Regions from separate parts of the Homo sapiens genome. Here region 2 is linked to region 1. A link means that fine-mapping ties the variant in region 1 to the expression of a gene that starts in the linked region. Tissue or cell type: thyroid. Region 1 holds a variant in brackets; the other region holds the start of a gene. All regions are shown on one strand. Distances are from middle to middle.

Region 1 (8,000 bases):
AAGTGATTCTCCTGCTTCAGCCTCCCGCATAGCTGGGATTACAGGCATGCACCAGCATACCTGGCTAATTTTTGTATTTTTCTAGAGACAGGGTTTCACCATGTTGGCCAGGCTGGTCCTGAACTCCTGACCTCAGGTGATCCACCTGCCTCGGCCTCCCAAAGTGCTGGGATTACAGGTGTGAGCCACCACGTCCAGCCACAGATATTATTTTATTTTATTTTATTTTATTATTTATTTATTTATTTTTTGAGATGGAATCTCGCTCTGTCACCCAGGCTGGAGTGCAGTGGCGCGATCTCGGCTCACTGATAGCTCCGCCTCCCGGGTTCATGCCATTCTCCTGCCTCAGCCTCCCGAGTAGCTGGGACTACAGGCGCCCGCCACCACACCCTGCTAATTTTTTGTATTTTTAGTAGAGACAGGGTTTCACCATGTTAGCCAGGATGGTCTCGATCTCCTGACCTCGTGATCCACCCGCCTTGGCCTCCCAAAGTGCTGGGATTACACTCATGAGCCACCGTGCCTGGCCTGATATTCTTTTATATTAATCAAATACTGTATTTAGTCCAGGAGCAGTGGCTCACGCCTGTAATCTCAACACTTTGGGAGCCTGAGTTGGGTGGATTGTTTGAGCCTAGGAGTTCAAGACCAGCCTAGGCAACATGGCAAAACCCAATCTCTACTAAAAATACAAAAATTAGCCAGGTGTGGTGGTACTACATGTCTGTAGTCCCAGCTACTTGGGAGGCACAAGAATCACTTGAACCTGGGAGGTGGAAGTCACAGTGAGCCAAGATCGCAGCACTGCCCTCCAGCCTGGGCAACAGGTAAGACTCGGTCTCAAAAAAAAAAAAAAAAAAAAATATATATATATATATATATATATATATATATAAAAAATACTACTGTTTTATCTGTTTAAATACTATATATATAATCTGTTTAAATGCTATATATAGGCCGGGCGCTGTGGCTCACACCTGTAATCCCAGCACTTTGGGAGGCCTAGGAGGGCGGATCCCGAGGTCAGGAGATCAAGACCATCCTGGCTAACAGGGTGAAACCCCATGTCTACTAAAATAAAAAAAAAAATTAGCGGGGTGTGGTGGCGGGCACCTGTAGTCCCAGCTACTCAGGAGACTGAGGCAGGAGAATGGCGTGAACCCGGGAGGCAGAGCTTGCAGTGAGCCAAGATCGCGCCACTGCAATCCAGCCTGGGCGAAAGCGAGTCTCCGTCTCAAAAAAATAAATAAAATAAAAATAAATAAATAAATACAATATACATCTGCACACACATATATATACTATAGTGTGTATATGTGTATACACATATATACTATAATGTGTATATATACCATATATATAGTATATGTGTGTGTGTGTATATATAGTATTTGGTATTTAAATAGATTAAACAAGGAATAAACACAAACTTAATTGACCTTCTTCTCCCCAGTAAAACATCCCACCCAAGTGGGTGGGTTCTGGGGGCTGAGCTCCTCTCCCTGCTACCCCTCATGGATATCCCATCACACTCAGCTAGAGGGGGTGCGAATCCCAGATCCCTTCCCCCCTCTCAATCTCCCAGCCCGACTGAATGTCCCACAAAGTTATTCTCTCATTTACCAGCAGGTAAGAGTCAAATATCGTTTGGAGTGCTAGGCTGGAAAGTGGGACAGAGTTCCCTACCTCTGGGAGCGCCAAAGTCATTTGGAAAGATAAAATGCAAGAGAAAGACGTGCAGGGTGGCCAGGCACGGTAGCTCACGCCTGTAATCCCAGCACTTTGGGAGGCTTGGGTTGGCAGATCAGTTGAGGTCAGAAGTTCGAGCCTGGCCAACATGGTGAAACCCCGTCTCTACTAAAAATACAAAAAATTTAGCTGGGTGTGGTGATGCAAGCCTGTAATCCCAGCTACTCGGGAGGCCAAGGCAGGAGAATCGCTTGAACCCAGGAGGCAGAGGTTTCAGTGAGCCGAAATCCCGCCACTGCACTCCAGCCTGGGCGACTGGGCGACACTCCTGGCAAACATCCCTCTCCTGGTTCAGTGCTCTTGCACTATATTAATAGTGATAGAGAGTACAGGAGATGGGAGGTAACACGTATGACCTGTCTCAAGCTGTTCATTCCCATCAAAGGCAGGGGGGTCAGGAGGGCTTAGTCTGCCATCCATCCATCCAACCATCTCCCCATCCATCCAACCCTCTATCCATCCATCCATCCATCCATCCATCCATCCATACATACATACATACATCTATCCATACATCTCCCCATCCATCCAACCCTCTATCCATCTGTCCATCCATCCATCCATCCATCCATACATACATACATACATCTATCCATACATCTACCCATCCATCCAACCAACCATCTATCTATCTGTAATAGGCAGACTAATGTCCCCCAAAAGATGTCTCCATCCTAATCCTAGAGCCTGTGATTATGTTACTTAACATGGCAAAGGGGGATTAAGGTTGCAGATGGAATTAAGGTTGCTAATCATCTGGTGTTAAAATAGGGGGATTATCTTGGATTATCTGGGTGGGCCCAAGGTAATCATATGGGTTCTTAAGAGGAGAAGAGGAACCACAGAGATGGCAGCATGAGAAGGACTTGGTCTTACATTGCTGGCTTTGAAGATGGAGGAAGGGGCCACAAGACAAGAAAAAATGACAGCCCCCAGAAGCTGGAAAGGCAAGGAGGACATGGATGCTCCATTAGAGCCTCCAGAATGCAACCCTGCTGACACCTTGATTTTAGTCCAGTGAGACCCCTTTCAGGTTTCTGACCTCCAGAATTGTAAGATAATACATTTGTGTTGTTTTAAACCATGAAACTTGTGATAATCTGTTACAGCAGCAATAGGAAACTAACACAGCAACTAACGAGCCAGCCCTTCATGCAACCATCCACCCAACCACCTATCCAACCATCCATCCAACCATCCATCCAACTGTCCATCCAACCATCCATCTAACCATCCATCCAACAATCCATCTGTCCATTTAACTAACTAACCACCCATTTAAGAAATATTCATTGACCGTCCCCCTTGTGTCACCTGGCAAGCTGTGAAAAAAAAGTGGGCAAATTACTGAAGCTCCCCACCCATTGGGAGCAATAGATACAGGATTTCAATCCAGGATCCTCAATGCTATGATGGTAGAATATGAAGCACTTGGGAAGGATTATGGGAGGCTTGATGGCTTTTGGTGGCAGGAACAAGGCAGGGAA[C/T]GCTGTAAAACAATTGTGAGTCCCATTGATTTTTTTTCCTTTTTCTTTTTCTTTTTTCTTTTCTTTTTTTTTTTTTTTTTTTTTTGAGACGGAGTTTTGCACTTGTCACCCAGGCGGGAGTACAATGGTGCGATCTCCAGTCACTGCAATCTCTGCCTCCTGGGTTCAAGGGATTCTCCTGCCTCAGCCTCCTGAGTAGGTGGGATTATAGGCACCTGCCACCATTCCCAGCTAATTTTTGTATTTTTAGTAGAGACAGGGTTTCACCATGTTGGCCAAGCTGCTCTCGAACTCCTGACCTCAGGTGATCCACCTACCTCGGCCTCCCAAAGTTCTGGGATTATAGGCGTGAGCCACCAAACCCATCCGATGTTTTTTTCTTTTAATTTTTTTTTTTTTTTTTTTTTTTGAGACGGAGTTTCGCTCTCGTCGCCCAGGCTGGAGTGCAATGGTGCGATCTTGGCTCACTGCAACCTCTGCCTCCCAGGTTCAAACAATTCTCCTGCCTCAGCCTCCTGAGTAGCTGGGATTATAGGTGCCCACCACCACGCCCAGCTAATTTTTGTATTTTTAATACAGACCGGGTTTCACCATTTTGGCCAGGCTGGTCTCGAACTCCTGACCTCAGGTGATCCACCCACGTCAGTCTCCCAAAGTGCTGGGATTACAGGTGTGAGCCACCATGCCCGGTGAATTTTTTAAAATTTTGAATAAAAAAAGCCAACAATTGTGAGTCTCTGCAGCCAGCTCCTCACCTGAAGGCTGCCCCTTGAGGCCACTGTCCCTTGCTACCTCTTTCCTCACCCCCGTGTACCTGGAACTCTTTGCCTTGTCCAAGGAGTAGGGCAAGAGGCCTGATCCAACCAGGATTTGTCCTCCTGTTGTGACTTCTGCCTCCTGCTCCTCAGCTTAGGCCTCATGCCTGCCATACTTTCTGCACAGCCCTGAGGCTCTGAGGTTCACTCTTGCTGCCACCTAAGCCACCAGCCCATCAGTTAGCAGTGAATGGCCATGACACCCACATTCTTGGTACCAGTGAGGAGCACCTGCTCAAGGGTTAGGCTGAGCCTAGTTCTTGGGCTGTGTGATCTCAGGACTGCCCCTGTCTGGGTCTTCACACCCTCATCTACAGAATGGGAATAATGATAGCTCCTCCTTTCAGGGCTGTAGTCAAGCTCAAGAGAACTCATGTTGAAGACCAGCCTGCACAGATCCTGGCATACAGGAACCCTGCCACCATCACCGCCTGGAAGGTGCTAGATTATTATATTGGGGGATGGAGTTGTTGGCACTTAGCTCCTCCCCACCGGAAAGGACCAGTTTCCTGTCCGTGAGTTGTTAGCTTTGACATGCTGAGCTATAGCCCCGTGGAGCCTGATCACAGGGGAGCCTGCGATCCACGGACAAGAGAGTTGCCCAGTATCTTGTAGGGCCATGGGCACAGTCCTCCCCAGCCCGGCTCATGTCACGATCTTCCAGGAACAGCCTGTACTTTGGCATGGCCCTGAGAAAGAGCAAAGACGGTGTTGCCCATCCTGTTCCAATCTTGTCACAGGAAGGATATGTGTCTGGCCATGTCCAGCAGATGTTTCAGGCCAAGTGTGTAGCCCAGGATAGCTTCCTGGGCAGCTGGCCCCAGGTTGGGTGTGGGGGAAGGGAGGGCAAAGGTCAACATTGAGAAGGGACAGCAAAAAGGGCTCAGGGTAGAATTTCAGACCCGATTGCCTAGGGCAGATTGGGGTAAGGTGTTCCCAAGCTTCTTACAGGGTCAGCCGCCATGAGGGTCACCCAGGTACCACGTTGGAGGCCTGCTTAGCCAACCTCGACTAGATGTGAGTGGCTCTTCTCTACACACCCAACTGAGACCACAAATCCCAGATGCATGAACCTGCTGGGTCTGGCCCACCCCAAGCCAGGAGGCAGTGTGGTCAGAATGCCACACCATATGCCAGGAGCTTGGTGTGCCACTCTTGGCTCTGCTATTGCATTCAGGATGTCACTTTATCTCTCCAGGACTCAGTTTCCCCTTCTGGAAAATGGAGCAATACACACTAGCCCACCATTTGTGGAATGCCTGGGTACTGTGCCCAGAGATCTTTTGATGTTTAATCTCATTGCTCACCTGATTCTGAATACAAAAGTTGAGGCTTCAGGAGGAAGCAGGCTGCCCAAGCCCATGATCCATGGAGGCAGCTTGTATGTGGGTCTGGCTGACTGGGTGCTGGTGCAGAGCTGAGCTGGGGCAGCTGCCTGTTGGCTCTGAGACCACTGTGCTTGCTGGGCTCGGTCTGCCCCACCCCATCCTCCCCTGGAACAGGTTTTCTACTCAGAAGTTGGCCTCTAAGGATCTCCCACCCAAAGGGCTGAAGCTCTGGATGCTCATTTTTCCCTGACTCGCTTGGGAGCCTGGTGAGATGTAAGGGACCCCCTGTTTTTCATCCCTCTCTTCACTCTCTCCTCCTAGCTGCATTCTCTGCCCAGCTCTGGATCCTGGAGGTGAGATCAAATGGGAGAATTCTGTTGGCCCAGGCAATGTCATCTTCCTTCAGATGTGTGACACCTTCCTAAGTCTGGCCAGGCAGCAGGGACAGAGACTCAGGCCCACCTGGGACCTGGTGACCCAGGCTGTTCAGTGGCAGCCAGAGGTGGGGGCACAGACTAGGGGTGTTCATTGTACAGACACCCTTATATCCTGAAGGGGATCCAGCTGGGATTAGGCTGGATGCCAAATAAGACAGGCAGCATGTGGAAGCCCAGGACCCGGGTTCAAGTCCTACATCCACTAGAGCAGGCTAGGAGAGCTTAGATAAGTCACTCATCTGTCCATCCATGCATCAACCACCCACAATCCATACAACACACATTTATAAGGCATCCTCTGTGTGTCAGGTGCCATGAGCAGGTGAAAACCTGCCCTCAGAGGTTGCAAAGGTGTAAGCATGGGAACAATCTCATAAGAACAGAGAGATGAGAGCAGGGTGTGTGCAAGCAGGATCCTGGTGTTGTGCAGGGTACAGCTTGCCCTAGTGGACAATGATGATGCAGCAGAGGTGGACCCAGAGACGACCAGGCAGTTGGGGCTCCAGGTTGGGTGCACACGTGTGCATGTGTCACAGGACTCTGACTCTGGGGGCTGTTGGTAGAAGCCTGGAGGCCCCATATCCCTGCGGTAGTCGCCACACTACAGCAAAGTAGTGTGTTTGACAGGAAATACCTCGGCAGCCATTGCAATTTAGGTTGCAGAGCACAGAGCAGTTGCCCCCGCGATGGTCAGGAAGCCCAGACCAGCAGAAAGGGGTGGAGAGAAGGGACTTCACCTGCTCTGCCCTCAGACTCTGCTCCCAGCTTCTGGCCTCAGGCTACACCAAGCCCCAGGATCCAGTGCGTGCATTAAAGGAAGTCCGCAAAGCCTTCCTGGCCTTCTTATCAGGGATGGCTTTGGGAAGGCGTGGGTTGGCAGCAAGGCCTCTAGGGGGCCACCCTGGAGTTAGGCTTAGGGACGAGGGGGTAGCGTGACTTTTTTGTGGCAGCTCTCAAATGCTGGTGTCCAGCCTCCCAGTGCAGTCCCATCTCCTTCCTGTCTCTAACCTACCTCGTTGTGGTGGCTTCATCTCTGGCTGGGCCAGAACCCCACTGGAAGACTACAGTGGACACCTCTCTGAGGCCCACTCCAGCCAACTGGGTGGGTGAACTCAGCTTAGTCTCTTGACCTCTTTGGGCTGGGAGTACCCTTCTGAGCAGGTACCTTTGGGCCTCCAAGTCCCCAAGGGAAACAAAGAAAGGGACTTTCAATCCTAGCACAGAACCAAGAAAGGAAACAGGTCAGGAAGGAGGTGGCCAAGGTACTTCTTGCATGCTGGACCTTGATGACGGGAGGCCCCACATCCCACATCAGCCTCCCTCTAGACTCCAGTGTGTCCACCCCACTCCCTCCTGGGGTAGGGCCCATCTAGCTGCTTCCAGCCAGTTGCCTGGTGCATGGTCGGTGCTTGCAGAGGGAGTGCCCTGCCTCTCTGTCTGTGCTTTCTGTAGGGGAGGATCCACTTTCAGACCCTCACACGCCCTGTTCCTTCTGCCTGGGACAGTGTACACCTCACCTGACGGAGCCTAAAGGTCACTGCCTCTGGGAAGCCTTCCAGGACCACTTTAGTCAGGCCAGGCCCTGCACGCTTGTCTTGCTTTGTCCAGCTCCATCTCCTCTTCTGAGTGAGGGGACTCCCCAAGGGCAGGCCTGGGCCCCCAGCATGCCCTGGGCTGTGCCGGGGCTCTCAGGAGAGCTTTTAACTTCCTCTTATCTGCCATTCCTACTCCTGAACACAGTCTGCTATCTTTCCCCTGGAAGAGCTGAGCAGGAGGGGAAGCAGCCACTTCACCTCAGCAAGACCTCTTGGATGCCGCTTTCTGGGTTTTTGCCACTCCCCTAGCAGCCATCTTCCCTGAGGGCTACCAGGGCTTCGGGCATCCATCTCTTCTCTTCCAGAGCTACCTTCTGCAGGAGAGATCGTGAGCAGGAAGGGAACAGGGCTAGGAAAGGGGGCTGGGGGCTCCAGGGGAAGATCCCTGAAAGACACACTGCACCCCAGCTGTCTGTCCCTGCAGCATGCGATGGAGGCTGGGGGTGGGGGATGGGGGAGATGGCAGGGGCTGGTCCTCGGTCCAAATCCAGGTCACTCCCAGCCTGTTCAGCAGCCGCTCAGTAATTAGGGGCCAGCAGGACGTGGGCAGGCAGGTGGCAGGAAGCCTAATTGTCTGATTTTT
Region 2 (8,000 bases), 38 kb before region 1:
CAGGGGCACCTCAGCTTCCCACACAAGGGTACCTTCACACTGGCATAGTTGGCAGCATTGATTTTGTCAGTGCAGATGGGGGCCACTGGCACAAAGCCCGGGAGCTGGGAGCCAGGGGCCGTGAGGAAGGGCAGGGAGTACATGCCACTCAGTGATGGACTGATCACAACCGGGGGGCCCAGCTCCAAGGCATCCACCACAGCCGCCAGGAAGCTGCCAGGGGCCAGCTCCCCAATAGGGGCAGGGGCTGCTGCTTCCTTGGAGTGCCCCAGACCTGCAGGGATTCAGGTGTGAAAGAGACAAGACAAGGGCAGTGAATGGCAAAACAAGGGAGATGGTTGCTCTCTCCAGGAAGCCCTCCTAGGTCAGTTTCTCTGTGGCCAGGTTCCTGTAACACCCAGTGTGCCCACGTTTATTCCTACAGTAGCCTCATTCTATCTTATCGTGCCAAGCATGAGGCACTTCTCTCCACGTCTGTGCCTGTCTCCCCAGCAGTAAGTGTCCTGGAGAGAATCAGGCTCTGAAGCCCAAGAAGTCTGGGTCCAGAACCCAATTCTGCATTTATTGTCTATGTGACCTTGGGTAGGTCCCCCTCAGTCCTCTCTCAGCTGCTCAGTTTCCCCATCTGTTAAAGGGGGATAACAAAAGTATCTGCCATTTAAGATTGTTGTGAAAATTAACTGTGTGAAAGGCACCTGGCCCTGGATTGGGACAAGAGAGGCTCCTGAAGGACAGCAGCTGAGGGGTCGGTTCTGCAGCTCCTCCTCCAGTCATTCAGGCTTCACCAACAAGATTAGCTCCAGACCTTCACCCTGAAGCTCAAGCCAACCCACCATTGGAATCAATCCTGCCTGGGCAGGAGGCTCGCCCTTGAGCCCTGAAACCATACCATCCCTGGCCTGAGGGGGTGGGGCCAGCCATGCTGCTCCTTTCACACCTGGCACCGAGGGTTGGGACCCAGCCATCTGGGTTATGACAGGCAGTCTGGGCACTGATCCCATCTACCCTAGAACCCAGCTCAGGGCTTTGCATGTGGGATCACAAGTGGGGGCCTGGCCACCCACCAGGCCCTGCCTTGTCCCCCAGAAGACTCAGGTCTCACTCCTTAGGGCTTCCAAAAGCCTATGGTTATTATTCAGTCAAAATACTTTACTTCCAATTGGCTGAGCACCGATTACTCTGTGTCAGGTACTAGCCACATACTCACATGGATTATCTCATTCCATTCTCATTAGAGCGAGCCCAAAACATGAGTGTGGTTATCTCCCATTGCAGATGAGGAAACAGAGGCTCAGAGACACTGAGACAATGCCCAGGTAACAGTGAGGAGCAGCTGGGCGGTGAGGACCACATCTGGATCAAGACTGCTCAGAGGCCCTTGCAGTGTGCTTGACCAAACGCTGTCAAGTTCAGGGCCCAGCCTGGCTGGGTCCTCCAGATCCCACCGCCCCCACCCCTGGAGTGGGGAGGGGCTACATGTTATAGGAACCTGGCCCTGTCCCTAATGAGACCTCCCCAAACCCTGCCCAGAAGCCTGCCCCTTAAGTACCTGGCAGGTCAATGGCCACAGCCCGGTAGCCAGCCTGGGCCAGCCTGTGCAGTGTACCCAGGTTCTGCCAGGTCTCGGAGGAGAAGCGAATACCATGCAGCAGCAGTACAGAGAAGCGAGCCTGCCCACTGCCGGGCAGGGCCTCTCGGAAGAAGAGGGCCTGGCCCTGCACCTGGATGGTGCCCTCGCGCTGCTCCACGCTTGCTGCCATGCCTGCTGCTGCTGTGCTGGTGAAGGGCCTGTGGTTCAAAACCACGATGATGAGGGGCCACAGAACACCCTGCCCAGGGTGGCAGTCCCAGAGGAGCAGCAAGGAAGCCTCCAGGAGGTTTCCAGAACTTTAAGAACATGCCTTGGGGTCAGGAGGACATAGGTGTTATTTCTGCCTCTGCCATTTACTTTAGTGTGTAACCTGGGGCCTCAGCTTCTTGATCTGAAATATGGGAACAATAAAGCCAACTTCAAGAATTAGCAATTTAATTAAAAGTTTAAGAAAAATTATCGGCCAGGCATGGTGGCTCACGCCTGTAATCCCAGCACTTTGGGAGGCCGAGGCGGGTGGATCACCTGAGGTCAGGAGTTCAAGACCACCCTGGCCAACATGGTGGAACCCCGTCTCTACTAAAAAGAAAAAAAAATTAGCCAGGTGTGGTGGCACGTGCCTGTAGTCCCAGCTACTCAGCAGGAGAATCGCTTGAACCCGGGAGGCAGAGGTTGCAGTGAGCCGAGATCGTGCCACTGTGCTCCAGCCTGGGTGACAGAGTGAGACTCGGTCACAAAAAAAAAAAAAAAAAAGAGCCAGCTGATGGTCACATGTAACTCTCATTAGGCCAGGCGCGGTGGCACACGCCTGTAATCCCAGCATTTTGGGAGGCCGAGGCGGGCGGATCACCTGAGGTCAGGAGTTCGAGATCTCCCTGATGAACATGCAGAAAGAAACCCCATCTCTACTCAAAATACAAAATTAGCCAGCTGTGGTGGCACACGCCTGTAATCCCAACTACTTGGGAAGCTAAGGCAGTAGAATTGCTTGCACCCAGGAGGCAGAGGTTGCAGTGAGCCGAGAACGCGCCATTGCACTCCAGACTGGGCAACAAGAGAAAAACTCCATCTCAAAAAAACAAAAAACAGAAAAATTATCAGTGGGGGTGCCTGCTGTAAAACCTCAATATGTGGTGGGGCTCCATTACAATTACTGTTCTTATTCTCATCGTTATTATCCTTTTCTATAAATGGGGATAATTCAATAGTACTAGCTCATAGGTGGTTGATAGGATTAAATAAGGCCATGCATGTACCATGCCTAGCACGTAGTAAGGGCTCAGTGCTCAATCAACGGTAAGTTACAGGTCATGAGTTGTCAATGCAGGCCAGAGGGAGCCCAAATTGGGGTAAAAAGCCCATTTTATTTTATTTTATTCTATTTATTTATTTTGGGACAGAGTTTCACTCTTGTTGCCCAGAATGGAGTGCAGTGGCATGATCTCGGCTCACTGCAACCTCCACCTCCTGGGTTCAAGCGATTCTCCTGCCTCAGCCTCCCGAGTAGCTGGGTTTACAGGCGTGCGTCACCATGCCTGGCTAATTTTTTTTTTTTTTTTTTTGAGACGGAGTCTCGCTCTGTCGCCCAGGCTGGAGTGCAATGGCACATCTCCGCTCACTGCAAGCTCCGCCTCCCGGGTTCACGCCATTCTCCTGCCTCAGCCTCCCGGGTAGCTGGGACTACAGGCACGCGCCACCACGCCCGGCTAATTTTTTGTTTTTTTTTTTTTAGTACAGACGGGGTTTCGCCGTGTTAGCCAGGGTGGTCTCGATCTCCTGACCTCGTGATCCGCCCGCCTCAGCCTCCCAAAGTGCTGGGATTACAGGCGTGAGCCACCGTGCACGGCCTAATTTTTATATTTTTAGTAGAAACGGGGTTTCATCATGTTGGCCGAGCTGGTCCGGAACTCCTGACCTCAAGTGATCCACCCACCTTGGCCTCCCAAAGTGCTGGGATTACAGGCGTGAGCCACCGCGCCGGAACTAAAAGCCCATTTTCTTCGGTTTTTTTTTTTTTCTTTTTTTTTTTTTTAAGAGAAGATGTCTCGCTCTGTCGTCCAGGCTGGAGTGCAGTGGCGCAATCATGGATCACTGCAGCCTTGACCTTCCTGGGCTCAAGTGATCCTCCCGGCTCACCCCCAGTAGCTGGAACCACAGGCGCGCTTCCACACCGGAAAGCCCATTTTCTAGAGGCGGAAACCGAAGCGCCCAGTGGGAAAGGCGACCCGCCGGGGATGCGGGGTGCTCAACGCGCTGCCACCTGGGGCCCAACGCGTTGACCTCGCGGTCAGGTTGCTTCCGCGGACTACGGTTCTGGCTCGCTAGCTCTGGAAGGGAGCACCGGGAGGGAATGGTGGCAACTCCCAAGGAGGGGACCCAGGGATCCGAGAAAGGAAGACTTGGGGTAGGTGGGGTTGGATTTTGACTGGAGAGAAGAAAGGGTCAGGAGTGCAGGGCGGGTACCTGGGGAGCTGCGTGGACTCGCGCAGACGGGAAGCAGGCGCGTGCTGGCGGTGACCTGGGGCCGGAGGAGGAACGCTGGGAAGAGGCCGGGCCCCATCCAGCGGGGGCGGGGACTGGGCCGTGCTCCGGGGCGCCCTCTTGTGGCCACAAGCTCGCAGCGTCCATAGACTCCGCTAAACTCGTTCTCACAGCGGCGTCAGTTTCCCAAAGCCTCTCGGTCTCACATGCCCCAAACGCGGTGCTGAGCACGGTTTCGAACTCTTCAGCGACCTGCCCCACATGGACATGGAGCAGTCTGAGGAGGAAAGTTCCTTCGGGATCGCATCCTTGCTGCTGTCTTCCTGCTCCCCATCCCCCTTATCCCCAGCTTGAACTGCCCAGGGCAACTTGTTGGCCTGGCACGGAGTTGAGGCCCGACAGGTTTGAGTGCGAGGCTCCGCCAGTGTCCAGCCAAGTGGCCTTGATCGTTTTCCCAATGCCCCCGAGCCTGTTTCCTGCCAGTAGAGCGGGTCAGATGTTGCCAACCTCTGCAGAGTAGCAATAAGCAGTAAACGCCACGCTCTGCACAGCCTCCCAGTGCTGGGCCTGGTCGCCACGCGGAGCCTTGGGCTGGGACAGGCCAGACGTTGGTAACACATCGCCAACCAGGGCAGGCGCCATGAGTAGACGTGAACGAGCCCAGGGCCAGCCCAGGCTCTGACCGTGGGTGTGCGTCGGGGAGGGGGTGGGGAGGAGTGGGTAGGAGTCAGGAAAGTGGGTCGGCCAAGACCTGGAGCTGCTGCATAACAATATCTGGCATTTACACAACGAGGCCTCTGCTCCGGACACTGTTCTGAGGCTTGACCCGTCCTTAAGAACCTAGGACAACCCTGTGCGGTGGGTTTTATCCTTAACTCCATTATACAGGCCAGAGAACTGAGCCAGGGTGGAGATGTTCCACTGAGAAGAAGCCACATGGCTCTCCGCCGGCTCTCAAGCCAAAAACAGTTCCGAAAATCTGGGCGGGGAGCGGGCCAGAGAGCGCTGGGGCTCTGCCCCCAGCACCCCCTCCACGCAGACGACTCGGTAACTGGGTTGCAGGCCCGCGGCTGCGGAGTGCGCAGGCGCGCCGAGATGGCCGCGCTCCTGGCCGCCTAGAGCCGGAGCGGCCCGCGGAGCTGCGGAGGCAGCCATGGTCGGGGCGCTGTGCGGCTGCTGGTTCCGCCTGGGCGGGGCCCGCCCGCTCATCCCGTTGGGCCCGGTGAGTCTCCCGGGGGAGGGAGGCCGGCCGGTGGCCCAGGGGAGGGCCGTCTTTACCCCGCCCCTTGCCCCGGCGCCCCGGGGCAGAGTCCCGCGGAAGAAGCAGACGCTGGGGCCGCGAATGTGCATGTGCGCGCGTGTAATGTGTGTGCGCGCGCAGGGTCTGCATATGTTCTTGGGGGTCTGGGTGTATGTGTACGCTTGTGTGTCTGCATGGTGTCCGTCAGTGGGTTTCTGCGCGCTTATATTTTTGGGGGGGGGGTGTGTTCGTTGATGTCTGCCTGCTTGTGTCAGCGTTATGTCTTCCGAGTGTATTTCTGTGTGCGTGTGATTTTAAGGGTATGTGTCTACCTGTCTGCGTGTGTGCATTTCTGGGGGTTTGTGTGTGTGTGCGTGTCTGCTTTCCTGTGCATGTGCCTTTCTTGTGTGAATGTGTAGTCTTACGGTTGTGTGTATGACCGTGCTTGAGTATTTCTGAGGATCAGCCTGTGGTTTTCAAAGTGTGCATCTCCATCAGTCTCTCTGGCTTCCTGATGCCTGACTGTGTGCGTGATGTAGAGGGTACCATTACAAGGGATTAATTGCACACGGGCCAGTGTGTGTGCAAAGAGGCTGCATGTACATGCAGGGAATAGCTTGTGCAAAAGAAAAGCGTGTGGGGGCAAGACTCGTATTTGTGCGTGTGTGCACCTGTGTGTCATTGTCAACGCATATTCCAATGACCTAACCCGGGCACAGTTTACCCTGCCCCCCGCAAACCCCCGCAGGCGGCCAGCTGCAGGTCCACTACAATTTCCTAGTACTGCGGGCACCCTCGGTTGCCAAGGCAACAGCCTAAGCCCCGCCCTTCCCGCTTTGGAGAAGCGCGGGGGCGCCCCGAGTGGGCAGCAAGGAAATGTCCCTCGCGCCCGGTGGGAATCTGGACTAACGCCCAGTTAGAGACGCGCGTCTGAGGTTGTTAGTGGTCTGGAAGAAAAGAGGAACGCGCTCTTCCTCCACTAGGTCCTGGTTTTCCAGAAACAGCAGAAAGGCGGCTGCTGCTGTGGCTCACAAGCCCCCCGACCCCGAAGCCTGGGGATGCGGGCTCAGGAAACATCCCCAAAACATCCCGGAGGGATGAATAGGAACCAAGACGGGCCCCCGGCTCCTAGTTCGGGCAGGCGCCCAGTTGGCACTCAATAAAGATGTGCTGGCCCGGCGCGGTGGCTCACGCCTGTAATCCCAGCACTCTGGGAGGCCGAGGCGGGTGAAACACGAGGCCAGCAGTTCGAGAACAGCCTGGCCAACATGGTGAAACCCTGTCTCTACTAAAAAATACAAAAATTAGCCGGGCGCGGTGGCGGGAGCCTGTAATCCCACTATTCGGGAGGCTGAGGCAGGAGAATTGCTTGAACCCGGGAGGCGGAGGTTGCAGTGAGCCGAGATTGTACCACTGCACTCTAGCCTGGGCGACAGAGCAAGACTCCGTCTCAGAAAAATAAAAATAAAATAAAGATGTGTTTGCTGGACTCCTGGAAGGAAGCAGGCGTGCTCATCCTAGGCCCAAGAAATGACAGGGACAGCCCTGATCCAGTCCACGGTATTATCTAAATCTCACAGGAAGCTTAGGAGGGCAGCCACGAGGTTATCCCATTTTACTGACAAACTGAAGACACAAGGTCAGGAAGTGGCAGTCTCAAAGGCCTGTCCTGTTTGAGTCCTGGGTCCTAAGGGCTGTCCTCTGGGGTGGCAGAGACCCCAGATTGGAGGAGTCCACGAAGCAGTCATTTGGCCAGAAGCTGTCTGTGTGTAGGATGGGGAGTAGCAGGCGGCATTCATCTCTCCAACCTCTACACTGTGCTTTTCATTTCTGGGTGTACCATGCTCCTCCCTGGCCCTGCAGCCCCTCACTCCTCAGCATTTTCCTCTATTACAAGACATTCTCTGTGAGCCTCTTCATAACAGCTGGGTTAGACCTTAGTTATAATGCGATTGTAAAACGCGTTCTGATTTTAGCAGTATTAAATGCAGTGAGATTAAAAGAACCATTTCCAAACATGCCCTTAAGTGGGAGGTCCCTTTGCGCGCAGTCTTTCTCCTTTGATAGCCCTCATCACTTTTTCCACCTGCAAGGCTCCAGTTCATCCATCATCTCCCAGCTCCACGGGTTCCTCCTTGGCAAACCGAGTGTGGCCTGGTAGTTAGAAGCCCATTCCTAGGTTCAAACCCCAATTCCCCCACTTGCTACTTGGCACTTTGGGCAAGAGAATGTACCTCTCTGAGCCTCCATTTCCTCACCTATAAGAGACCTATAATCACGTCTGCTCCCCAGCATTCTTGGTGGAAAAGAACCTTGTATGTGAAGTGCCACACTCAGGGCCTGCTGTCATAAGCGCTTGATGAACGGAAGTGGTTTCAGCTGATGCCATGATGGTGGCGGTCACTGAGCATGCTGTGTGCCAGAGAACACCTCAGATGCACCTCCTCACACTGTGAGGTATCTGAGCGCTTGCCCTGGCATGTGGAGTAGTTGAGTGTGAACTCCCAGAACTTTGCCCAGAGCAAGGGAAAGGGCAAGGGCTGGAGCTCTTCCTCTGCTGGGGACTCTGGGTGGGGTTTTGGGATGGGATCCAGGGTCCTTGTAGGGACTCAGTTCCAGCCTCTTTTCCCTCTCCTCTCCCTCTCCAGACTGTGGTACAGACCTCCATGAGCCGGTCCCAGGTAGCCC

The links. PIP is the estimated chance that this variant, and not a neighbour inherited with it, causes the effect.
Region 2: ABHD14B starts here. The variant in region 1 is fine-mapped to the expression of ABHD14B in thyroid (GTEx, PIP 0.97).

Annotation. Positions count from the first base shown.
Region 1 is chr3:52,008,115-52,016,114 of GRCh38, forward strand. No RefSeq gene overlaps it. Among named protein-coding and RNA genes, the nearest start is that of RPL29, 16 kb to the left of the region's middle. RefSeq lists enhancers at 6,915-7,794, 7,470-7,539. The variant C/T (reference allele first, on the strand shown) is at 3,243.
Region 2 is chr3:51,969,911-51,977,910 of GRCh38, forward strand. It overlaps ABHD14B (abhydrolase domain containing 14B), which reads right to left and starts at 4,139. Exons shown (of 4, transcript NM_001146314.2): 1 at 4,055-4,139; 2 at 1,550-1,788; 3 at 33-274. The coding sequence starts at 1,760. ABHD14A-ACY1 (ABHD14A-ACY1 readthrough) reads left to right here and starts at 5,154. Exons shown (of 17, transcript NM_001316331.2): 1 at 5,154-5,294; 2 at 7,961-8,000. ABHD14A (abhydrolase domain containing 14A) reads left to right here and starts at 5,154. Exons shown (of 5, transcript NM_015407.5): 1 at 5,154-5,294; 2 at 7,961-8,000. The coding sequence starts at 5,226. RefSeq lists enhancers at 3,328-4,264, 4,298-4,477 and silencers at 3,708-3,857, 4,078-4,247, 5,078-5,457, 6,063-6,357.